Homo sapiens: one gene and its partners. The protein of the gene in region 4 purifies or fractionates together with the protein of the main gene of each other region. This does not show direct contact. Each region holds a gene or a part of one and is shown on either strand. Other genes may lie near its edges. The genes, in order: FUNDC1, SLC2A1, SLC30A7, DHCR24, VPS8, ATP13A3 and BRI3BP.

Evidence for each region.
Region 1: the proteins of DHCR24 (region 4) and FUNDC1 purify together in Homo sapiens (affinity purification with mass spectrometry; one large-scale study listed by BioGRID and IntAct). This does not show direct contact.
Region 2: the proteins of DHCR24 (region 4) and SLC2A1 purify together in Homo sapiens (affinity purification with mass spectrometry; one large-scale study listed by BioGRID and IntAct). This does not show direct contact.
Region 3: the proteins of DHCR24 (region 4) and SLC30A7 purify together in Homo sapiens (affinity purification with mass spectrometry; 2 studies listed by BioGRID and IntAct, with this or other methods). This does not show direct contact.
Region 5: the proteins of DHCR24 (region 4) and VPS8 purify together in Homo sapiens (co-immunoprecipitation; one large-scale study listed by IntAct). This does not show direct contact.
Region 6: the proteins of DHCR24 (region 4) and ATP13A3 purify together in Homo sapiens (co-immunoprecipitation; 2 studies listed by BioGRID and IntAct, with this or other methods). This does not show direct contact.
Region 7: the proteins of DHCR24 (region 4) and BRI3BP purify together in Homo sapiens (affinity purification with mass spectrometry; one large-scale study listed by BioGRID and IntAct). This does not show direct contact.

The regions. Positions count from the first base shown.
Region 1 is NC_000023.11:44,529,360-44,532,859, forward strand, and holds part of FUNDC1 (FUN14 domain-containing protein 1), read right to left. Parts: intron 1-3,500. UniProt on the Homo sapiens protein: Integral mitochondrial outer-membrane protein that mediates the formation of mitochondria-associated endoplasmic reticulum membranes (MAMs).
Region 2 is NC_000001.11:42,924,853-42,927,868, forward strand, and holds the end of SLC2A1 (solute carrier family 2, facilitated glucose transporter member 1), read right to left. Parts: intron 2,957-3,016; coding exon 2,753-2,956; intron 2,390-2,752; coding exon 2,189-2,389; 3' UTR 501-2,188; downstream 1-500. UniProt on the Homo sapiens protein: Facilitative glucose transporter, which is responsible for constitutive or basal glucose uptake. Has a very broad substrate specificity; can transport a wide range of aldoses including both pentoses and hexoses.
Region 3 is NC_000001.11:100,913,090-100,916,589, reverse strand, and holds part of SLC30A7 (zinc transporter 7), read right to left. Parts: intron 2,928-3,500; coding exon 2,784-2,927; intron 1-2,783. UniProt on the Homo sapiens protein: Zinc ion transporter mediating zinc entry from the cytosol into the lumen of organelles along the secretory pathway.
Region 4 is NC_000001.11:54,873,696-54,877,195, forward strand, and holds part of DHCR24 (delta(24)-sterol reductase precursor), read right to left. Parts: intron 2,353-3,500; coding exon 2,247-2,352; intron 1,517-2,246; coding exon 1,398-1,516; intron 1-1,397. UniProt on the Homo sapiens protein: Catalyzes the reduction of the delta-24 double bond of sterol intermediates during cholesterol biosynthesis.
Region 5 is NC_000003.12:184,853,666-184,857,165, forward strand, and holds part of VPS8 (vacuolar protein sorting-associated protein 8 homolog), read left to right. Parts: intron 1-191; coding exon 192-345; intron 346-448; coding exon 449-508; intron 509-2,045; coding exon 2,046-2,153; intron 2,154-3,500. UniProt on the Homo sapiens protein: Plays a role in vesicle-mediated protein trafficking of the endocytic membrane transport pathway.
Region 6 is NC_000003.12:194,431,503-194,435,002, reverse strand, and holds part of ATP13A3 (polyamine-transporting ATPase 13A3), read left to right. Parts: intron 1-1,106; coding exon 1,107-1,231; intron 1,232-3,110; coding exon 3,111-3,286; intron 3,287-3,500. UniProt on the Homo sapiens protein: ATP-driven pump involved in endocytosis-dependent polyamine transport. Uses ATP as an energy source to transfer polyamine precursor putrescine from the endosomal compartment to the cytosol.
Region 7 is NC_000012.12:125,028,145-125,031,644, reverse strand, and holds the end of BRI3BP (BRI3-binding protein precursor), read right to left. Parts: 3' UTR 414-3,500; downstream 1-413. UniProt on the Homo sapiens protein: Involved in tumorigenesis and may function by stabilizing p53/TP53.

The DNA of each region.
Region 1 (3,500 bases), on a different chromosome or scaffold from region 4:
TACGTTTTGGGGGAAAATGTCAAACAGTTGCAAGGAAAATGAAAAACCTTGAGATGCTAAAGATACTAACGCCTCTTTGGAAGAAGACTTCCCTAACACCTCCAAGCAGACAGAGCGTCTTCCCTCTGCTCTCTCAGCACTAAACACACCCTTCTAGCTCAGCACTGACCATATGGGCTGTGAATCTCTATATCCCTAGAGTCCCAACTAATGCCAGATGAATGAGACATAGTAAATAAATGATAACAAAGACAATGAATAAAGACTAAATCTCAAAAGCTGTATTAACCAACCTGGCTCAAATAATGACTCTCAGCAACAAAATGGATGAGCTAGATTATCCCAAAGGACCCAACCTAGCATGTCTACTAACAAGAGAATGATCTTTGATGCTGGAGTGATCTACCATCACTGAACAAATTCCCTTGAGAATCTGTTCCCTTGCAGGAAAAATGAAAAACCTTGAGATGCTAAAGATATTAATGCCTTAAAAAAGAGAGAGAGAGATGAAGTCTCACTATGTTGCCCAGGCTGGTCTTGGACTCTTGGCCTCAAGCCATCCTCCTGCCTTGGTCTCCCAAAGTGCTGGGATTACAGTGAGCCACGGCACCCAGCTGAGAAGTACACTTCTGATCAAACCGAAGAATACCAGTCTAAATTGAGCACCCTGCTCCAGTACAGAGATGACCAAGGACAAGCAATCTGCCCCAAGTGGGGTTCAGGTACAACCAACTTAACCAACCAATACATACAGGACCCAATTCAGTCTTGTCCACACAAAATTCATCTGCAACTACAAGGAAATGCAAGCCAACAGACTGGGGAGGGAATGGGGCAGTGATGACTGCTTTTTGAACATTTGACTTCCTATAACACTAAAATATTTAATGGGATTACATAAGGTACTTTTATTAGAATAAAAGCTTCCAAGTTAAAAATAAATAAATAAAATAAAATAATTCCAGGCCGGGCTCCGTGGCTCACGCCTGTAATGTTAGCACTTTGGGAGGCCGAGGCAGGCGGATTACCTAATGCCAGGAGTTCAAGACCAGCCTGGCCAACATGGTGAAACCCTATCTCTACTAAAAATACAAAAATTAGCCGGGCATAGTAGCGCATGCCTGTAATCCCAGCTACTTGGAAGGCTGAGGCAAAAGAATCACTGGAACCCAGGAGGCAGAGACTACAGTGAGCCGATATCACGCCACTGCACTCCAGCCTGGGCAACAGAGTGAGACACTGTCTCAAAATAATAATAATAATGATGACAGAGGGGCTGGGCGTGGTGGCTCACCCCTGTACTCCTAGCACTTTGGGAGGCCAAGGTGGGCAGATCACTTGAGGCCAGGAGTTCGAGATCAGCCATGTCAACATGGTGAAACTATGTCAGTGAAACTAAAAACACAAAAAACTAGCTGGGTGTGGTGGCTCACACCTAATCACAGCTACTCAGGAGGCTGAGTTACAAGAATCAGGAGGCGGTTCTTGAACCCAGGAGGCGGAGGCTGCAGTGAGCTGAGATCTCGCCACTGCATTCCAGCCTGGGTGAAAGAGGGAGACTGTCTCAAAAATAAATAAATAAATAAATAATAATGCCAGAGGCCAGGCTCGGTTGCTCACGCCTATAATCCCAACACTTTGGGAGGGTGAAGCAGGCAGACTGCTTGAGCCCAGGAGTTTGAGACCAGCCTGGGCTATACGGCGAAATTCTGTCTCTACAAAAAATACAAAAATTAGCCAGACATGGTGGCATGCACCTGTAGTCCCAGCTACTTGAGAGGCTGAAGTGGCAGGATCGCTTGAGCCTCAGGAGTTCAAGGCTGCAGTGACCCATGGTCACGCCACTGCACTCCAGCCTGGGCCAGAGAGTGAGACTGTTTCCAGAAAAACACACACACACACACACACACACACACACACACACACGGCTTTCAGATGAAGATTCATGTTGGCCAGACACACACACACACACACACACACACACACACACACACACACACACACACACACACGGCTTTCAGATGAAGATTCATGTTGGCCAGAAAGCTCTAAACAGGTAGATGGGGCTTTTTGCTTGTGAACTTCACCATATGCTGATCTAATTGGGCTGTTTCACTGCGGGAAATTCTGCCCACCCCCAACTCCTTATCTTTAGATCATTTTTCTTGGACTGGTCAGATTTCCCAGAGAAGGGAAAGCCCAATCCACATGTCCATATTGTTTAGAGCTTTCCATCAACTTTTAGTGCTCAATTCTTAAATATGAGCAGACAACCAAGGATCATCAGACTTGGAGGAAGGCCTTTAACTTGAAAACTAGAAACCAAAATAAACAAGCAGGAAAAAGGTTGGGGAGGGGGAACAAAACACCTTAGACAAACAGGGACTTGGTAGGAAGAAGCTTAAAACACACACACACACACACACACACACACACACACACACAGAAGCTTGATCATTTATGTCCTCAGAGAGCTTAAAAAAGACAATGCACAACTGAAAGAGCTCTTAATGGCCAAAGCTGGTAAAATTTGAGCAATAAAAGAGCATTAGATTATAAACCAAAGTATAAAATAAATATCCATGAGTCCATATTGATATAAATAAATGACTGAATAAATAAGAGACAAACCTTCCAACAGACTATTTCTAAATAATTTATGTAGCTACTCTGCCTTCAGAAAGGTGGAGCATAATTACACTCCTGAAATGTGGGCTATACACAGTGACTCCCTTCCAAAGAGTACAGTATGAGGCCCGGCACGGTGGCTCATGCCTGTAATCCCAGCACTTTGGGAGGCTGAGGAAGGCGGATCACTTGAGGCCAAGAGTTCAAGACCAGCCTGGCCAACATGGTGAAACCCCATCTCTACGGAAAATACAAAAATTAGCCAGACAGTGGTGTGCGCCTGTAATTGCAGCTACTCGGGAGGCTAAGGCACGAGAAACACTTGAACCTGGGAGACTGAGGCTGCCATAAGCCAAGATCACACCACTTGCACTCCAGCCTGGGCAACAGAGTGAAACTCTGTCTCAGAAAAAAAAAAAAAAAAAAGGAACCCCAAGAGTACAGTATGAAAAGGGGGAAAAGCTGGTGGATCCTCTCATATGGGGATAGTAGGAATACTTTCTGGAAGGCTACTTGACAATCAAGAGGCTTAAATATATATATGTGTGTGTGTGTGTATATATATATATATTTTTTTTTTTTGAGACGGAGTTTCGCTTTTGTCACCCAGGCTGGCGTGCAATGACATGATCTCGGCTCACTGCAACCTCTGCCTCCCAGGTTCAAATGATCCTCCTGCCTCAGCCTCCCGAGTAGCTGGGATTACAGGCATGCACCACCATGCCCGGCTAATTTTGTACTTTTAGTAGAGATGGGGTTTCACCTTGTTGGCCAGGCTTGTCTCGAACTTCTGACCTCAGGCGATCCGCCCGCCTCGGCCTCCCAAAGTGCTGGGATTACAGGCGTGAGCCACCATGCCTGGCCTAAATATG
Region 2 (3,016 bases), about 12 Mb from region 4:
GTAGTCCTCGCGTCCGGCCACCGGCGCGGGGCTCCCACCCATCCCCACCCCACCCCACCCCACCCCACCCCGTCTGTTTCCTTTCTGGTCCAGTGGGGACAGCCCTGAGTGAGCAGCGTCGTAGGAGTAAGATACCTGGGCCCCCGGCCTCTCCTTCTTGCCCTGCCCCCGCACCCCCTCCCGCACGGGGACCCGGATAACTCCTTTCAACAGAAGTCTTTTGGGAGCACACGATAAGGCTTCCTTTCATCTGGCCTCAGCCCTTCACCAGTTAACCGCCCTGTCCCCAGGCTCAGGCAGGGCATATTCTTCGCAACCTGCTCTTCTTTGTTGAGATGCAGATGGATGTCCTCATAGATTCTTTATACCTAATGGTAATACATATAGGTATTTCCATTTGCTAAGTACCAGTTTTCCTTTCTCACACCCTTCTTACAACCCCTCTTCATGTCAGGGAGAAAAAAGCCTGCCTGTAGTTACAAAAGCAAACTTCTCCCAGATTTTGTCAGCTGAGCCTCTAGAGACAAATATCTTTGGTGTTTTATTTCCTCCAGTATTTTCTGAGTGCCTGCTGTGCATCAAGCACTGTACTGAATAGTGCTGAGGACCCACAGGAACCAAATCGGCATCTTCTCATGAAATTCAGACTAGTGGCAGAAAACTGGACTTGTGATGAAGGAGCAGATGAAGTGCTCTGGAAATTCAGGGGTGAAGGAGGAGGATGAGCTGTCTTTAGAGATGAAGCAGTAGTATACAGAGGAACCAGAGGGGGCAATTCCAAATGAAATGAACACAGGGCAGCTTGACAGCTCATTGGGCCCATACAAAGAACGTGGTTCATTTTGTGTGTGTGGGGAGGGGTGCAGGAGGTGGGTGGAGTTAATGGAGTAGTGGTTGTATGGTACCATTGTTAAAAGCAGGTGTTTTAGCTTATTCACTGTGCGACTTCAGGCACATAACCTCTTTGAGCCTGTCCAATAAAGGTACAGTATTTACTTCACATTCAAAATAATGCATTTCAAGCCTGAGCATCACGGCTGGCACAAAACTAGTGTTTTTTTGAACACCAACTATCAAATATGTGATAGAAATGCCTTGAATGTCAAGATAAAGAATGTATATATTCTCTGGGTAACAGGGATCAAACAGATTTTTGAGCAAGAGGACACTGATGAGAGGTACGTGTAAGGGACTGGATCCTGAGTCGAAGTCTAAGCCGTTGCAGTGGTTGCAACCCCACTTACTTCTGTCTCACTCCCATCCAAACCTCCTACCCTCAATCCACAAGCATTTCAAAACCATGTTTCTAAAAACCAGCCATTTATATCTGTTTAGGTAAGTAACAGGAGTGAGGTGGTGTATTTACAAGTTGGCTTGTCCAGATATACTATAACTTAGTGTCTGTATTTAATATTGACAACCAAAAATATATATAAATATCTTGCATCTATACACAACAGGGCAGGAGTCTCCATGTCTTCTTGAGCAGTGAGTTTGCAGGCTCCCACAGGCCCTCTTCTCATGGTAATAGTGTGGCCCTCAGTGCAAAGGAGACTAGAACCCGGCAGCCCAGACTGGCCCTTCCCCTCTCCTCCCTGCACTCCAGTGCTCCCAACTGGTCTCAGGTAAAGAAAGATTAATTTGAGTGGTTGGGTAGGAAGAGATGGGAAGGGGCAAATCCTAATGGAGCCTGACCCCTAGAGTGGGGAGATCCAGGCCAGCAGAACGGGTGGCCATAGCCACCTCCTGGGATAGAAGCTTTGTAGTTCATAGTTCGATTAGTGTGTCCTTAGGACATAGGTCCAGCCCTACAGATTAGCTGGGTGAAGAAGGCAAGTGTCTCGACAGGGCTTAGTCTCCACCCTCAGGCATGGAACCATTCAGGGTGAAGCCTGGGATGTGGGCACAGGAGACTCAGGCTGATATAAAAATAACAAAATCAGTAATAAAAAAATTATAAAACCTGTTGCTTGTCTGAATAGATTTGAGCAACAGTCTTGCTTTTGTTAAAATCCTGGAGCCGTTAAGTCCTGAATATTCTTCTGGACATCATTGCTGGCTGGAGAAAGGAGCCCCAGGCCCGGCTCGGCTGACATCTGTCAGGTTTGGAAGTCTCATCCAGCTGCCTGTGCTCCTGAGAGATCCTTAGGGCTGCTGGGAGCAGGCCGGGCTGGTGATCTGGGGCGACTCACACTTGGGAATCAGCCCCCAGGGGATGGAACAGCTCCTCGGGTGTCTTGTCACTTTGGCTGGCTCCCCCCTGCCGGAAGCCGGAAGCGATCTCATCGAAGGTCCGGCCTTTAGTCTCAGGAACTTTGAAGTAGGTGAAGATGAAGAACAGAACCAGGAGCACAGTGAAGATGATGAAGACGTAGGGACCACACAGTTGCTGAAAGACACACAGACACACTTGGTTGGAGTCATGACCCTACATCCTGGCTGTAGGACTTTGGATAAGTCACTTTACCTTTGGGCCTTTGAGCTGAAAAGGGAACATCCACCTACCCAGGGATGCTATCATAATTAACTGAGACCACGCTTGTACCTAGAATGTAACAGGCTCCAGGAGCACCATTCAAGGCTAAGGGGAGAACCCTGGAGTTGAGGTCAGCATTCTTGGTCATGTGACCTGGGCTTCCTACCCTCAGTTTCCTCCTCAGCATGATTCCTAATGAGAATGCTGGGCCAGCACTTTGCACAGCACTGTGGGGTCATGCGTGCGGGTGAGTATAGAGACAGTGGGGGTTCTCACCTCCACATACTGGAAGCACATGCCCACAATGAAATTTGAGGTCCAGTTGGAGAAGCCTGCAACGGCAATGGCAGCTGGACGTGGACCCTGGCTGAAGAGTTCAGCCACGATGAACCATGGGATGGGGCCAGGACCCACTTCAAAGAAGGCCACAAAGCCAAAGATGGCCACGATGCTCAGATAGGACATCCAGGGTAGCTGCTCCTGTTGAGGATGACGGAGAGGGGGAAAAGTTAGACTGGGTTGTGATGGATCCTCAGGGGA
Region 3 (3,500 bases), about 46 Mb from region 4:
ATAAATGCCTGAGGAGAAGGATACCTCATCTCCATGATGTGATTATTTCACACTGCATGCCTGTATCAAAACATCTCATGTACCCCATAACAATATACACCTACTGGTTGGGCACAGTGGCTCACACCTGTAATCTCAGCAGTTCGGGAGGCCAAGGCAGGTGGATCACGATGTCAGGAGATTGAGACCATCCTGGCTAACACGGTGAAACCTCGTCTCTACTAAAAATACAAAAAGTTAGCTGGGTGTGGTGGCACACGCCTGTAATCCAGCTACTCGGGAGGCTGAGGCAGGAGATTCACTTGAACCCGGGAGGCAGAGGTTGCAGTGAGCCGATATCGCACCACTGAACTCCAGCCTGGGTGACAGAGCGAGACTCCATCTCAAAAATAAATAAATAAATAAATAATAAGAATATACAGCTACTATGTACCCACAAAAATTAAAAATAAAAAAATTTATTAAAAAAATAAAAAAGTAATAAATGGCCGAAGGAATAAAATAGACATTTCTCCAAAGAAGACATACAAATAGCCAACAGGTACATTAAAAGATGCTCAACATCACTAATCATCAGGGAAATGCAAATCAGAATCACAATAAGATATCATATCATACCTGTTAGGATGTCTATTACCAAAAAAGCAAAAGACAGTAAGTGTTGGGAAAGCTGTAGAGAAAAGGAAACCCTTGTATACTACTGGTGGCAATGTAAACTGGTGCAGACACTATGGAAAACAGTATGGAGGGTCCTCAAAAAAACAATAATGGAACTACCGTATGATCAGCAAACTGGGTATATATCCATGAGAATTGAAATCAAGAGCTCAAAGAGATATCTGCACTTCCGTATTCACTACAGCATTATTCACAATAGCCAAGACATGGAAGCAAGCTAAATGTCCATCAACAGATGAATGGATAAAGCAATGTGGTATATACATACAACGGAATATCATTCAGCCTTAAAGAAAGAAAGAAATCCTTCTAATTTTGACACATGAATGATCCTGAAGGACATTATGCTAAGTGAAATAAGCCAGACACAGAAGGACAAATACTACATTTATATCACTTATATAAGGAATCTAAAATAGTCAAACTCATAGCAACAGAGAATAGAATAGTGGTTGCCAGTGGTTGGAGGAAGTTGGAAAAGGGGAAATATTAGTCAAAGGGTACAAAGTTTCAGTTGTGCAAAATAAATAGGTCCTAGGGATTTGTATGGCATAGTGCCCATAGCTAATACTGTATTGTATACTTAAAAATCTGCCAAGAGTGTAGATCTTATGTTAAGTGCTCTTACTGCAAAAGTAGAAAGAAAGAAAGAAAGGAAGAAAGAAAGAAAGAAAGAAAGAAAGAAAGAAAGAAAGAAAGAAAGAAAGAAAGAAAGAAAAGAAAGAAAAGAAAAGAAAAAAGAAAAGAAGTGAGGAAGGGAGGGAGGGAAAGAAAGAAGAAAAGAAAAGAAAAAAGAAAAGAAAGAATTGAGAGTAGGAGGAAACTTTCAGTGGGAACGGATATGTTTATTGGAGAAATCATAGTGATGGTTTCATGGGTGCATACTTACCTCAAACTCATCAAGTTGTATACATTAAATATTTATCTGTTTTCATATGTCAATCATATCTCAATAGAGTAGTTAGAAATTTTTTTTTTTTTAGACAGAGTCTAGCTCTATTGTCCAGGCTGGAGTGCAGTAGCGTGATCTCAGCTAACTGCAACCTCCGCCTCCTGGGTTCAAGCTATTTTCTTGCCTCATGGAAAAATTTCAAAGACTGAAAAATGAAGGGCTTAGAAGGCTCACTCTTCAAGGTCCCTTTCATATTTTCAATTCTAAAGCTTTAGGATTCTGTCTATGTTGCAAATACAAGATAATACTTAAGCATACACTCTACTGAGAGTAATCAAATTGTGTCACCCAAGCAGCTTCTATTAAGCTATACTTTATAAACTATGTAAAATATAATTCAAAATAAAATATTAAGTTGATAAACACCTCATAACTTAGTACCCAATGCTACATAAGTTAGCATCCAAAGATTTCTAAAAAAAACATAGAGGTAAACATCAGGTGACAGACATCAAAAATTATAATACAAATGTGAAAAATTGAAAACCTCCACCATATTTTTATAAGCCAATATAGCACAAAAGGCCTCGTGATGCTTAAAAAATTATGATTTTCATTTCCTAAAATGCAATTGTTCCTCATTCACTAGTACTCATTTAAAATAGTGGCATTTGAGGGGAGGGAAAGGGGGACGGTTAATGAGTACAAAAAAATAGTTGAATGAATAAGACCTAGTATTTGCTAGCACAACAGAGTGACTATTGTCAATTTGTAATTTCATTGTACATTTTAAAATAACCAAGAGTATAATTGGATTGTTTATAACACAGGATAAATGCTTGAGGGAATGGAAACCCCATTTACCCTTACGTGATTACTATGTATTACATGCCTATACCAAAATGTCTCATGTAACCCATAAATATATACACCTACTATGTACCCACAAAAATTAAAAATTAAAAATAAATACATAAAAAAGTGGCATTTTATTATGATATACCCTCTGGAAAAAAGCGAACATCCACTGCCTTATACTGAGTTAATTTCATGCTATACAAAAAATAAACTAGCCCTGGGAACCATTTAGACTGATTCATTAGAAAAGAAGTTGATTTGGTATCTTTTTAATAAACTATTTCAACTAGGAAAAGTAATCCACAAAACTCTTGTTTATTTGGAGGCTGTCCATTTGTCTCTAGGCTGTACTCACCATGAGAATGAAAGTGTCCATGTCCATGAGCATGATCATGGCTATGTGCAGCACCATGTTTCACTTCATGGCTATGGCAATGATCGACATGGCCATGTGCCTGATCTAGAGCACCATTAAAGAGGGAATGACTGTGTCCGTGGCCTAGAAAACAAAGTGTTAGGACAGAAGGTATGTAAAAATATATTATATAAATGGTTACAATTATACTGACACTAGCGCAAAGAATCAGCTCTAAACTCAGATCAATTCAATAAACATTTACTTGTAAAAAGTGTTACACATTTGTTAAAACAATCCTGAGTTTCTGCTATGGAGTACCAGAAGGTAATGAAAGCATAGAGGAAAGTGATAGACCTTACTGGAAATGAAAATAAGTACTGACTGGAAGTATACAGATATCTCCAAAGAGGTCAGATAATGATATTCATTCATTTGAGAAATATTTATTGGTAACATTTTCTATTATAGGAATCATTCTAGGCACGGGAGATGAGGCAGTAAACAACAAAGACAAAATTCATGCCCAAAATTTTTCAAAGTACTATTACACACACTAACAAAGATTAACAAGACATATGCAAATGCTCACATTAAGGCAGACACAAGAAAGCTGCTGCATTTGGTAACAGAATCAGTAAAATTACATTAAAGCAGGTAGAAAAAGCTAAATGCAAAAGAATGCAGAATCCTTTCTCCACAGCATACCTAAAAATG
Region 4 (3,500 bases):
CTAGAGTGCAGTGGCGTAATCACGGCTCACTGCAATCTCTGCCTCCCAGGCTCAAGTGATCCTCCTGCTGCAGCCTCCACAGTAGCTGGAAATACAGGAACACATCACCATGCCCAGCTAATTTTTGTATTGTTTGTAGACCATGTTGTAGGCCATGTTGCCCAGGCTGGTCTCAAACTGCTAAGCTCAAGCAGTCCACCTGCCTTGGCCTCCCAAAGTGCTGGTATTACAGGAGTGAGCCACTGCACCCAGCCTTGTGTCTAAGTTTTTAACAAAAAAACTTTAACAAGTTAAAAAAAAAGTTTAAATAGAAACAAGCTTATAGAATAAGGATATAAAGAAGGAAACTATTTCTGTACACCTGTACAATGTGTTTGCATTTTAAGCTAAGTGTTATTACAAGAGTCAAAAGTTTTTAAAAAGTTTATAAAGTAAAAATGTTATAGTAAGCTAACAGTATTTATTATTGAAGAAAGAAAATTTCAAAAAATAAATTTAGTGTAGCCTAAGTGTACAGTGTTTATAAAGTCTACAGTGGTGTACAGTAATGTCCCAGGACTTCACATTCACTCACCACTCACTCACTGACTCACCCAGAGCAACTTCCAGTCCTGCAAGCTCCATGCATGGTAAGTACGCTACATAGGTGTACCATTCATCTTTTATACTGTATTTTTACTGTACCTTTTCCAAGTATAGGTATGTTTAGATACATAAATACCATTGTGTTACAGCTGCCTACAGTATTGAGCACAGTACCATGCTGTATAGGTCTGTAGTCAAGGAGTAGTAGGCTATCCAAATAGCCTACGTGTGAAGTAGGCTATCTCATCTAGGTTTATGTAATTACACTCTTATGATGTTTGCACAATGACAAAATTGCCTACAACTTGTTTCTTATAACATATCCCTACTGTTCTGTGACACATGACTGTACCTCACAGTGTTAAGACACACAGCTTTGATGCCAAGGCCTGACTTCCTCTCCAGAGAGGCAGGATGGCATAATGAACGGCTAAGGGACCTGGGAGCCTGATTACTGGGGTGTGAGTCCCAGCTGTGTGACCTATGGCAAATAATCTCTCTGAGCTTTAGTTTCCTATCTATAAAATAGGGATAATAATCCTTCTATTATTTAATAATAATCTATAAAATAGGGATAATAAACCTCCCTCATTAGGTTGTTGAAGGATAACATGCATGCCTTAATATATATAATGGATTTACAACATTGCCTAAGCTCATATAAGGGGCTACACAAATTTTTGTTTACAGATATAGACCCAGACTGAACAGGTACTGGGAATGAAGCACACCTAGAGGAGCCACCTCCCTGACCTCAGGATCCTTAATGCCCAGAGCAGGCTGGCATGGACATCTCCCATTGCTGAACTCACCGGAGTGCATCGCACAAAGCTGCCATCAGCCAGGACCAGCTCGTAAGCAGTGCAGATGTGTTGGAACAGGCCGTACTTGTGGGATGATGACTCGATGCCTGTGCCCATGATCAAGCCCCCTGCAGAGACATCACACACAGTGTCAGCAGGGAGAGCTGTGGGTACAGGGTTGGGGGTGGGTTGGAGCTGGGGGGCCTCCTAGCATGAGGGAGGTTTGGCAGGCTAGCAGAAATGGGGCTGTTGACTTAGGGGAGATTTCCCACCTGTCAATCTAGAGAGCAGGAGAGGGAAGGAGGGGCTCAGATGGGAGCATGAGGGTGTCCTTAGAGGAAGGGAGTGGCGAGCAGACCTTGTCAAGTGTACTCACACCTCACCTCTGGCCAGACTCAACCTAGAAATCTGTGTGCATTCATCTTGAGAGGGACTTTAATGAAAAGGGGGGTTGAAGGGGTGACAGGAAGCCCTGTCCCATGGGAATAGTTAAAAGAACTGAAGGTGTTTTCCCTGAAGAAGAAGAGGCTTTGGGGGCTATGAATCCTATGGGAGGAGAAGAGAGACTATACTTATTCTGTGTGTTCCATGGGGGGGAATTGGAGCAATGGGAACAAGTCACAGGGAAGCAGATTCAAACCAGAAATTAAAAGTGCCTTCTGATAACTTGAGCTGCTCAGAAATGGAACAGCAGGCAGTGAACACCCTGTCATTGGAGCAGGCAAGTAAGAGACTGAATGACTTCTGTCACAGATGGAATAGCGGCAATTCCAGGACTAGATGGAGGGTGGCCAAGGCCCATCAGCTCCGGTCCTAGGACCGTGTGTCTCTTCTTGCCCGTTAATATAGGGTCCTCACCCACTGTGAGGTCATCAAGCTCAGGCAACACGGGGAGAGTCCAGCCAATGGAGGTCAGCAGGGCAGTCACCTGGCCCATGGTCACCAAGGGCTCCACACGGACAATCTGTTGACACAAGAAAAGAGACCCTGGGTCAAAAGGAGGCTGCCAGGCCCAAGGGGAGCTGCTGCACACAGAAGGTGTCATCTCAAACCTTCCCAAACACTCACTGCAGGGATTCCTATATAGCCTTTACAGGCTCTTTCTAGAACATTGCCTTTAATTACAGGGAATGTGATTTCTGGCTCTCGGTTAGCTAGTGTTCAACCTCGCCCTTCAAGTATCTTTATACTAAATATTTGACTTAACCTTTTCTAAATTACAGGAGAAATACTCATTCACTTAGAAGATACAGCAAAAGTGAAGAAGAAAACAAAAATCACCCATCCTGGCTGGTCGTGGTGACTCATGTCTGTAATCCCAGCACTTTGGGAGGCCAAGGCAGGTGAATCATCTGAGTTCAGGAGTTTGAGACCAGCCTGGCCAACTTGGTGAAACCCTGTTTCTACTAAAAATACAAAAATTAGCCAGGCGTGGTGGCGGGCACCTGTAGTCCCAGCTGCTTGGGAGGCTGAGGCAGGAGAATCACTTGAACCTGGGAGGTGGAGGTTGCAGTGAGCCGAGATCGTGCCACTGCACTCCAGCCTAGGCAACAGAGTGAGACTCCGTCTCAAACAAACAAAAAAAAAATTCACCCTTCCTAGTTCTTCAGAATTACTAATGTTAATAACACAGTGTATTTACTTTGGTTTTTTTTTCCCCACACATACTGTATTGGTACTGTGAACCGCAAATATCAGAGACAGGTCTCAGTTAATCCAGAAAGTTTATTTTGCCAAGATTGAGGATGTGCGCCTCTGATACAGCCTCAGTACGTCCTGACAACATGTGCCCAAGGAGGCTGGTGCACAGCTTGATCTTACACATTTTAGGGAGACAGAACACATCAATCAATATATGTAAGAAGTATAGTGGTTCTGTCCAGGAAGGCGGGGACAACTTGAAGCAGGGAGAGGGCTTGCGGTCACAGGTAGATAAGAGACAAATGGCTGCATTCTTTTCAGTTTCTGATAAGCCTTTCCAAAGGAGCTAATCAGAATATGCATCTATCTCAGTGAGCAGAGGGATGACTTTGAATAGAATGCGGAAGCAGGTTTGTCCTGAGCAGTTCCCAGCTTGACTTTTCCCTTAGTTTAGTAATTTGGGGGCCCCAA
Region 5 (3,500 bases), on a different chromosome or scaffold from region 4:
GACTGTTTTTGGCAGAAAAATAAATGAATCTGACTTGTATAATAAAAAGACCATGCTGCTGTCCTGTGGAGCTTGGATTGTTGGGGGTTAAGGAGGTAGGAGGTAGGAGGCTATGAAAGTAGTCCAGGTAGAGATAGTAGTGCCTTGGATCATTGCTAAATTGATTCTGAATTTTCAAATTGCATTTTCAGGAGAGTGATGGGAGTGAGAACCTGTGAATCTAGATGTCTGTTCAGTGGTTCCAAGGGTGAAGTCTGCTGTATTGAGCCTCTGCATTCTAAGCCTGAGTTGAAAGATCATCCCATCACACAGTTTTCATTATTGGCCATGGCATCCTTGACAAAAGTAAGTGTATTTAGAAGTTAAAACTCAGAACTTTTAGAAGCTTTGAATACCAAATATTTGAAAATTCCAAGGTCAATATTGAAAACATATTTTTCTCTTACAGATACTGGTCATTGGATTGAAACCATCCTTGAAAGTATGGATGACTTTTCCCTATGGCCGGGTGAGTACGTCCCTCCATCTTATTTGCCAAAGGAAGGACCATGTCAGGAGGTTGAGAGAGATGGCTTGCAAGGGGTGAATTCTATGAGATTGTCAGAAAACTAGACAGGATGAAAGTCAGTGCTCCAGAGATCGTTGGCTGGACTTGCCTTAAGGTGATCAAAGCATCATAAAGCTGATGACCAGCACAGTGTCCTAGGGATCATGAGTCTTGTACTTTTCCACTTTATCACTTTAAGCTTTTCTCTCATAGACAGCATACAGTTGGCTTTTGTTCTTAACCTTAACTTGACAGTCCCTGTATATTGCTGTCCTGGTACTCTGTGGTCACACCTAACTTCATGCATGGCATTTCCTAGCTTCATTCGTTGCCCTTCTGAGTGCAGTAAAATTCCCTTATCAGATTTAAAGTTGAAGGATAAGTTGATTTATTGAGTCCAAGCCCTGATTTTCAGTGTTTGAAAGATACTTGTTTTTACATGGCTGCTGTGCTGAGACAGGCTTATACTCACTGCCTGCAGCTTTGGCACTGAACTATGGATAGAGTAGACCCCACTGTAATATGCGCCATAGATTGCTATTACATGTGCTTTCCCTGGCTTCTGCCTCTGATAATTTACTTTGGAGGATGATACTTCCTAGCATGTGTTATTTATATCCCAGTTTTCCCTTTTTTTTCTTCTTGATTGTTTTCAGAGTTGTAATCTTCCAATGTATATATGAGGAGAGGTGTTGATAGGATGGGATGGAGAATGGTGGTACAGAACTCTGGCTGGTGCAGAAAGCGTTCCCTATGGTGAAGGAACTCACTTTTGTTTTCTTGTTGGTACCCTGTGTGTCTCTGGGCCCTAGGGGAAGCAGGTCTATCCTTTCAGATGGCAAAACTGGCTTAGATGGCCATTAACATTTGTTAGATTAGCTTCATTGGCGAATTGAGATTTTTTTCATGGTGTTATGTGTTTGCTTCTTTTTGTATGTTTTTATTGTTTTTTTTCAACATTTTATTATAAACATTTTCAAACAAAATTGAATTTTACATTGAATACTTGTATAGCTACCATTTAAATTCTATAATTAACATTTACTGCCCTTTATTACATATCTGTCCATCTACCCATCCCTCTGTCCACTTATCAAATTATATTTTTTATGTATTTCAAAGGAAATTTCAGAAACCAGTATTCTTTCCCCTAAATATTTAGCATGCATATTATTAGCTAGAGTTTAATACTTCTTTAGGTTTTTCCTTTGGTGTAGAATATACATACAAAGAAATGCACAGATCTTGAGTGTACATTTGCTGAACTTTGACAAATGCTTAACACTTTTGTAACTCAAATGCCTATCAAGATGTAGAACATTACCATCAACCCAGAAAGTTCCCTCATGATACCTCCCAGTTAGTTCTTGCTTTACTGAGAAATTGGGGAAAGTTTTTATCAAGGAACACTAGTCAGATGCTGTTTTTAACCATAGTTTTCTCTTTGTCCCCTTGTTTATTAACTGTGATGATTTTTTTTTTCCATCTCCCTACTTAGATGGATCCTTCCAGTGTGCCACTGCTGGCCTGGCACTTTGTAGCAGTACAAAATTACGTGAATCCCATGCTTGCCTTCTGCAGAGGAGATGTTGTTCATTTTCTATTGGTAAGTCCTAATATGACCATTAGAAAGCCTCTTACAATTTTTTTTATTCATCAGCAATTAATAATGTGTCAGAGAAATTTGTGTTACTATCCTAAGTCTTTGGAGAGAGAGTGACCTATTTAATTTTTATCTAAGGCTTTAATGATTAGCATCGGAAAATGGTGATCACTCTCAGCTACATAACTTCTCATGGTTTATTTCTCAGCTTCATTTCTTTGACTGACAAATAATTAATGGTATATGTAAATGTATAAAGATATGAATGTGAATATGTGTTAATGTATGTGCAACTACATATGTGTGTATTAATGACAGCAAGTATCATTGAGCACCTATTATGTCCTCTACACTGTGATGGGCACAAGCAGCAAAGGAAAGAAGGAAGTATACAACATAATTTCATCTTCCACACAGCTTATAATCTTGTTTGAAAAGCAAAATCAGTGTGTTCATTATTACTACAGAAAATGGTTTAAGGATTGAACTATGTGATGAAAATCAAGCTGATGTAAATTCAGAGTACAAAGTGATTAGTATGGACTAGAGAGAGTATTAATGGCTTTATGAAGGATATACTGCAACTACTGCAGGAAGGGTAGGTATGCATACTGGGGGAAGTGAGATGAACTGAAGTCACAGAGGCAAGAATGTGCCTTTGTATTAATAATCTCTTGCGTTTCCTAGCTCAGTGAAGCAAGTTCACCACTGTCCACCTAGTTTCTCCAGCCAGAAACTTACGAGTTACTTTTCAGTTACCTTTCTCTCTTCATATGTGCTCTATCACCAAGTCCTATTGACTCTACCTCCAAAAATCTCTTGAATTTCTCCTTTTTTGTCTCCCCCATTGCTGTTTCCTTAGTCTAAATCATGTACATGTCTAGCCTGGATTCTGCCATAGCTTCCTAGCTAGTCTCTGGCCTCAGTGCCTTTTACATATACTGTTGCCTCTGCCAGGAAAGTTCTGTGCTATCTTCTGTTGTCTCTGAGCTCATGATTAACATGACCTTCCCTGGCCTCTGAACTAAGTTAGTTACATGCATCTTTTGATAACATTCAGCACTTAAAAAAAAACAAAAGAGGGACGAGGTCTTGCGGGTCTCCAACCAAGGCCCAGGCTGACTCTCGAACTCCTGGCCTCAAGCGTTCCTCCCACCTCAGCCTCCCAAATATTGGGATTACAAGTGTGAGCCATTGTGCTTGGCCACATTCAGCACTTTTAAAATTACTTGTCTAATATTTTTCTTCCCCACTAGACAGAAAGCTCCATAACTCTAGAGACCATCTTTACTGTTATATTTCCAGCCACTAGGACAGTGCTTGTATATTGTAAATATTCAGTAAATGTTT
Region 6 (3,500 bases), on a different chromosome or scaffold from region 4:
CATTGAGAAAAAAATTTCTATGATATAATTCAGGTAGGTTGAGGTGTTTTTTGTTTGTTTTCTTTTTTTGTTTGTTTCTTTTGAGATAGGATCTCTCTTTGTTGCTTAGGCTAGAGTGCAGTGGAACAAACACTTCTCACTGCAGACTTGACCACCTGGGCCTTAAATGATCCTCACTCCTCAAGCCTTCCAAGTAGTGGGACTGCAGGCACATGTCATCATGCCCAGCTAATTGTTTTTTCATTTTTTGTAGAGACGGGGTCTCACTATGCTGCCCAGGCTGGCCTCAAACTCCTAGGTTCAAGCAATCCTCCTATTTCAGCCTCCCAAAGTGGTGGGATTACAGGCATGAGCTACAATGCCTGACCTGAGATTTCTTAAGAACGTAACTATCACTGAACAGACTTCATCTCTTTTATAGTGCTAAAGCACGTACTATTTTTGTGTGCATCTCTTTGGTTGCATGTCTGTTTCCCCACCCAAGTGTCTTGAGAGCAGAGATCATCCCTTTTTGTCTTTAACCTCCCAGTGACTAGCATAGTGCCTGCTGCATTCTTGATACTCAGTTATTTAAAGAATAGCATCTTGATAACTATATTAGTAATATTTTCAAAGACCCATCTCTGGGTCCCAAGTAGATCTCATTGTTGGATTGCTAATGGTTCTTGTGTCACATTTTCAGGATCAGTAATTGTTTTATAGAATTGATCTGAGACTTGATAATGAATCCACGAAAACTGTATTGAATGTGCTTGTGGCACAGTTTTTTCTTTTTCACTTAACATTTAAATTAGGATATGTTGTAGAGGGCAGTAAAGAATAGATTTATGCTTATTTTTGGATACTACACAAAATGAATATTCCTTAGTATTAGAATTGTTTAGTGTACAGTGACATACATTTCCAAATGATTATTATATTGAGATACTGAACTCTTGAACACACACGTGGTTTATTCAGCATATAAAATGTTTTCATTTATAGATATTTTAAACTGCATTATAACTTATAGACATTTTTAATTGTTTAGATATTTCAAGTTTGTGTACATAAGTTGCTTACTCAATTGACTAAACCATTATGTGTTAAAACTTCTTTTTCTGCAGAGATGCAATTGAGAACAACATGGATTTTATGGGATTAATTATAATGCAGAACAAATTAAAGCAAGAAACCCCTGCAGTACTTGAAGATTTGCATAAAGCCAACATTCGCACCGTCATGGTCACAGGTTAGACTTTATAAAAGAACACAGAAGCAAATGGAGTGTGACAGAGCTGAAGTTATATTATATTGAGGGATAATCAGTTATAAAATCATATTATATAGTCTATAGTGGTTTCAACCTAAGTTCTCTTTTAGCTCTGAATATTTTCCCAAGCGCAAGATAACTTTGTCATATTCTTTTTGAGGTCTAGCGAATCCTATTTATAGAAAGTGTAGTAGAATAGTAAAAGTACGGCCGGGCGCGGTGGCTCACGCCTGTAATCCCAGCACTTTGGGAGGCCGAGGCGGGTGGATCATGAGGTCAGGAGATTGAGACCATCCTGGCTAACAAGGTGAAACCCCGTCTCTACTAAAAATACAAAAAATTAGCCGGGAGCGGTGGCGGGTGCCTGTAGTCCCAGCTACTCGGGAGGCTGAGGCAGGAGAATGGCGTGAACCCGGGAAGCGGAGCTTGCAGTGAGCCGAGATTGCGCCACTGCAGTCCGCAGTCCGGCCTGGGCGACAGAGCGAGACTCCGTCTCAAAAAAAAAAAAAAAAAAAAAAGAATAGTAAAAGTACACTGTAAAAATTTAAACTTGACTCCTTTTTGTTTTCTCTCTTTATTCGTATATTTCTTATAGCACTTATTGTACCTTGTGTTATTTGTAGATTTGTTTTCTGTACTAGAATATAAGATTCTTGAGGGTTAGGAGTATATTTTACTCATGTTGGGGTCCTTTGCAACTTTTAGAACTGTCAGCTACATAGAAAATGATTAATAGATATTCGATAGCATGAAATGTTTATATGTAAGATATTGTTTATTACCCTAGCTTGAATTCTAGTGAAATAGCCTACTTTTTTTTTTCTAGTACATCTAAGGGATTCTCCTGATGTTACTATACTGTTGATAATATTAGATAACTCTTACTCATTAGCTGTGTGAAATTGTGGTAGCTCTGTTTTTTGTTTTTTTTTCTTAGCAGATAATCAGATTTAAGATACTTAATGGCACTTACGTGTTCAGTAAGACTAATATGGAGAAAGTCTGTATACATTTTTGTGTTTTAGACTCTTGAGATCTATCTAATAACATAATTTTACCGTATAACTCAAGGTAACTAAGTCTGTTAGCATTCCAGCCATTCTTAGTTCTTGCGTCTTCTTTGTCAAGACACTTTTCACCTGTTCCTCGTCCTCCTCTTTTATTTATTTATTTATTTTCCCCTTGCCAGAATATGGCTTTGTGTACCAAAGGTCATAGGAAGATATTCTTGGAAATAGTGTGTGGAAATTGAGGAAAGAAATATCTCGCTCTTCTGTTTTGGTAGCAGTGGGATCCACAAACCTTTGTCTGCTTCTCCTTAATAAGATCCTGTTCTTGCTGCTCTTCTTTCTTCTCATGACTGAGAAGTTGTCTCTCTTGTTTCTCGTTTACACCTGTTCTTATTACCTGTCTTACCTTTTTGTTTTGTATGATCTTGCTTTTGTAATTCATCATTTTCTATGATATGGTGCTGGTGTTCTTGCACAGACCACTAGTCACTTTGTAAAGTTATTTCGGTAAGTATTTATTGAGCCACCTGATCTGTGTGTAGCACCGTGCCAGGTATTGTGTAGATACAAATAGTGCATGACTGGAAAAGATTGAGAATTATATTTGGCTTTAAAAATTGTGGGTGAGATGTTTTCTTTAGCATATAACGTGCTTGCGTTATTTGAGGCTTCTTTTGATAAGTATGCTCCAATTTTGTTATTTTTAAACTGTAAGTGGAAGAACCATACATTATCGTTACTCTGCCAGCCCAGTCATGGAGACTGTAGTAGATTCTCAGCAAGTACATGTTTGATACGTTCACGTTTCCATTTTAATTTCAATACATTTAAAATATTTTGAAAATTAGGTGACAGTATGTTGACTGCTGTCTCTGTGGCCAGAGATTGTGGAATGATTCTACCTCAGGATAAAGTGATTATTGCTGAAGCATTACCTCCAAAGGATGGGAAAGTTGCCAAAATAAATTGGCATTATGCAGACTCCCTCACGCAGTGCAGTCATCCATCAGCAATTGACCCAGAGGTAAGGTCAAGATCGACTGTCCGTTTTAAAGTTTGTTGATTTAAATTTAGTCTGAAAAAATAAAAAAAGTGGTGCATTAAAACACAGTAAAGCAAAAACTAAATGAAAACAGAAGTCAGGGCTATTTTTTCAGAGATTATGTTTCATTAGGACTGGGACAGACCCAGGAATCTCAATGTTCAAATTTTGATATTTAGCTAAGATGAGAAGCATA
Region 7 (3,500 bases), on a different chromosome or scaffold from region 4:
AGATCTCGCCACTGCACTCCAGCCTGGGTGAGAGTCCATCTCAAAAAAAAAAAAAAAAAAAAAAAAAAAATAGAAAGAAAAGGATTGTTAGGACCTGAGAAAGCAGCATGGGTATGCGGGGTGGGGTGGAGAGGCACGCATCACTGTGCTAGGACTGTCAGATTTGGCAACTAAAAATACAGGAAACTTGCTTACATTTGAATTTCAGATAAGCAACCAACACTTCTACACTATACTAAAACACTACTGGTTGTTTATCTGAAATTCAAATTTAACTGGGCATCCTGTATTTTATCTTGCAACCTTACCTCCAACTGAATACATAAATTCAAGGTTTTATGACTCTTCTCAGATCGAGGAATAGAACCATAGAATCCTGGTTACACATCAAAACTGGGGAAACTCCACAAATGTTTGGTTAGAAGTGATGAGATATATTTTAAAAGTCCATACAACAAAATTACAATAAACATTTATTAAGCTGTAATTTTCACAATATTTTAATTCTGTTCTGAGATCTACAAATATCTCTACATAACACCAAAGCCAGTGATTTAATAAATAAGAGGAATGTATATATCGCTTTGCAAAAAAATGCCTGATACATTTATCTCTATATAAGATATTTGTAGAATCAGTTTCCCAAGGCTCACGAAACTAAAGTGCACACACACACACACACCATGTACACACACACACTATTCAAATCAAATGGATTTATATTAAGTGCCAAATTAAATGCTATACAAAATTTATAACCAGATACACAAAATATGAAGTCAATCATGAATCCACTGTTGATAATGGATACCATACCTCACAAGTGTGATTTCCAGTTAAGAAGAGGGAGACAATTGCTTCATTGGGTTTTTAGTGTGTGCTAATCACCATCACCATCACAAGTTAATCAGTTTAATTACATGGTATTCAGAGATTAAACACACATGCAGATATTAAATGGACACTACAATAAAACCTTTAAATCTGCAAAAAGACATGAGAACACATGGTCAATAATACCACTCGCTGCCACAGCTTTTCAGTAGACAATGCAAATGGCAATCAGCGTTTTAAGCCACCACAAGAGAAAAACTGGTACTGGTGCACCTCCTACATATCAAGGAAAAGCAAAACACAGAATAATTTAATATGCTGAATAAAATTTGTTTACACCAGATACTATACATCACACTGATGGTTGTCCAGTATGAATTTTAAGGGTATTATGTTAGATTCTGCAAAATATATTCCTATTATTCACAAGTGAGGAGTCAAAGTCCAACTATTCAAATGGCCATAAACAAAAATGTTGCAGAAGGTATAGACCATTAAAAATAAAAAAGTCAGGAGTGGGGCAGCTGACCCCTTAGGAGCCTCAGGAATTCCTTTTAATGCAAGATAGATGGCAAGAGCTGGCTTTTTGGTTAAGTCAGCCAGTTCGGAAACCCATCAGGGAGAAGTTATCAGGTGTCAACTTGTAAGGCAGATGACATTCATCAAAAGCATCTTAAGAAGTAGCAGTGATCACAGAAAGGAAGCAATTCAGGATTTCCACTAGCAACAAATTGCATTAACCATGTCTAGGCCATTTGACAGCTGTTATTCTTAACGCTCCATAAGCCTGAATCACAGGGCCAGATGAGCGACTAAGCTGCTCACATCCTCTCTACAAGGCAGCCCTCCCGGGCATGCACAAAGTCATATTATAGTCTTCCTAATCACTGACCCAAACCTTTGCGTTCTTACTCAGCTCCCCAGAGGGGACCACCCCACTTGGTTACCACCATCACAGTCATAAAGACATAGTCCCAGTTCCCTGACATCGCTGCCTCCCGACTCCTGCATGAGACAGGCTCTCATTTCTGGGGTAAGTGTATGAAACACCTTTCAACGGCATTCACTTACCCTTTGTGAATTAAGACACAGGCACGATTCACAAGGTCTGCTTCCCAGAAATTCTATTGCTGTGCTCTGTTACCAGAAATGATATGGGGGCTGAAATCCAAAGCAAAAGAAACCAAAGGGCGGGTAATGCCGACTGGTATTGGAAAGTGTGTGTGTGTGTATATATATATACATATATATACACACACACACACTTTTTTTTTTTTTTGAGACTGGGTCTCACTCTGTCGCCTCAACTGGAGTACAGTGGTGTGATCTCAGTTCACTGCAACCTCTGCCTCCCAGGTTCATACAATTCTCCCACCTCAGCCTCCTGAGTAGCTGGGACTACAGGAACCCACCACCACACCTGGCTATTTTTTTTTTTTTTTTTTTTTTTGTATTTTTTGGTAGAGACGGGATTTCACTATGTTGGCCAGGCTGGTCTCGAACTCCCGACCGCAAGTGATCCACCCGCCTTGGCCTCCCAAAGTGCTGGGATTACAAGCTTGAGCCACTGCACCCAGCCTGGAAAGTATATTTATGAAAGGTTTGCACTCCACAAAAGCATCTTTGCTAGGGTGTCAAGGAAGAGATCACTAAACCAACCCCAACACATCCATACAATTCCAGCAATCTAGAGAGGGCTGGTCCTTTTCCTTTTCTGGATTATTTTCTGTTCTCAGTAAAACAAGTATTTACTGTGATACTGAAACACTGGGAAATTAACACTGATTAAGATATTTTAAACACTGAGTCTTAATTATAACAGAACCAGTTTTCATCAGAATGCTTTTACGTCACATTCAGTGAAGTGTTACGCTAATATATTCTACAGCCCTGAAGATAGAAAAAAGGTTTCTCTCCAGGTATGAGATATGGTACAAAAATACATTTTTCCACATACAAAAGAGAGAAAAAAACAAAGACATGTGGCGGGTGGCGAGGGGAGGCCCAATCCCAACACCCTACAAGGTTCCATGGAATGGAGAAGGAACAAAAAAATCCCCAATTATTTTGGGGTAAGATGTGCCCCAGAAAAGGTGAAATCTATGCAATAAAACCCAGGTTTTCTTCAAATCTAGCATCTAGGATTTCTATCAGAGTTTCAAATAATCAGAATTTCTATCAGAATTTCTACCCTGAGGTGACACCTACTAACTGTAGGTTCTTTCATTAAAAATGAAGACATCTTTCACCAGAATGTATCAAGCTATAAAACTGGCTTCAGAGCCTACACTTAGCCAGAGTGGAAAAAAAAAATAGTGCATATTTTCGACAGCAATTTTGAATTGATGCTTGAGGTCTCAATCCACCAGCACCCAGATATCATGTTACCTCCCTCAGTTGAATACAAGTTAAAATGATGATCTTATCGAGATCTCAATAGAGCACAGTGCCCTTCATGTTTCGGGTAAGAGGGTGGGAGGAGGAATGAAGCGGGTATTACACCCAGCCCAGTGACAGCTTAAGCCTTAACATGCGGGCATCTTACAATGACCATAAACAAGGGAGGGGCCAAGGCAGGGCTGGCGATCATTAGCTTTGCGCACAGAATGCCATGTTTTCCCCTGGCCAACATAAGCAAAGCTGTTTTAGTACCTAAACGTGGTATA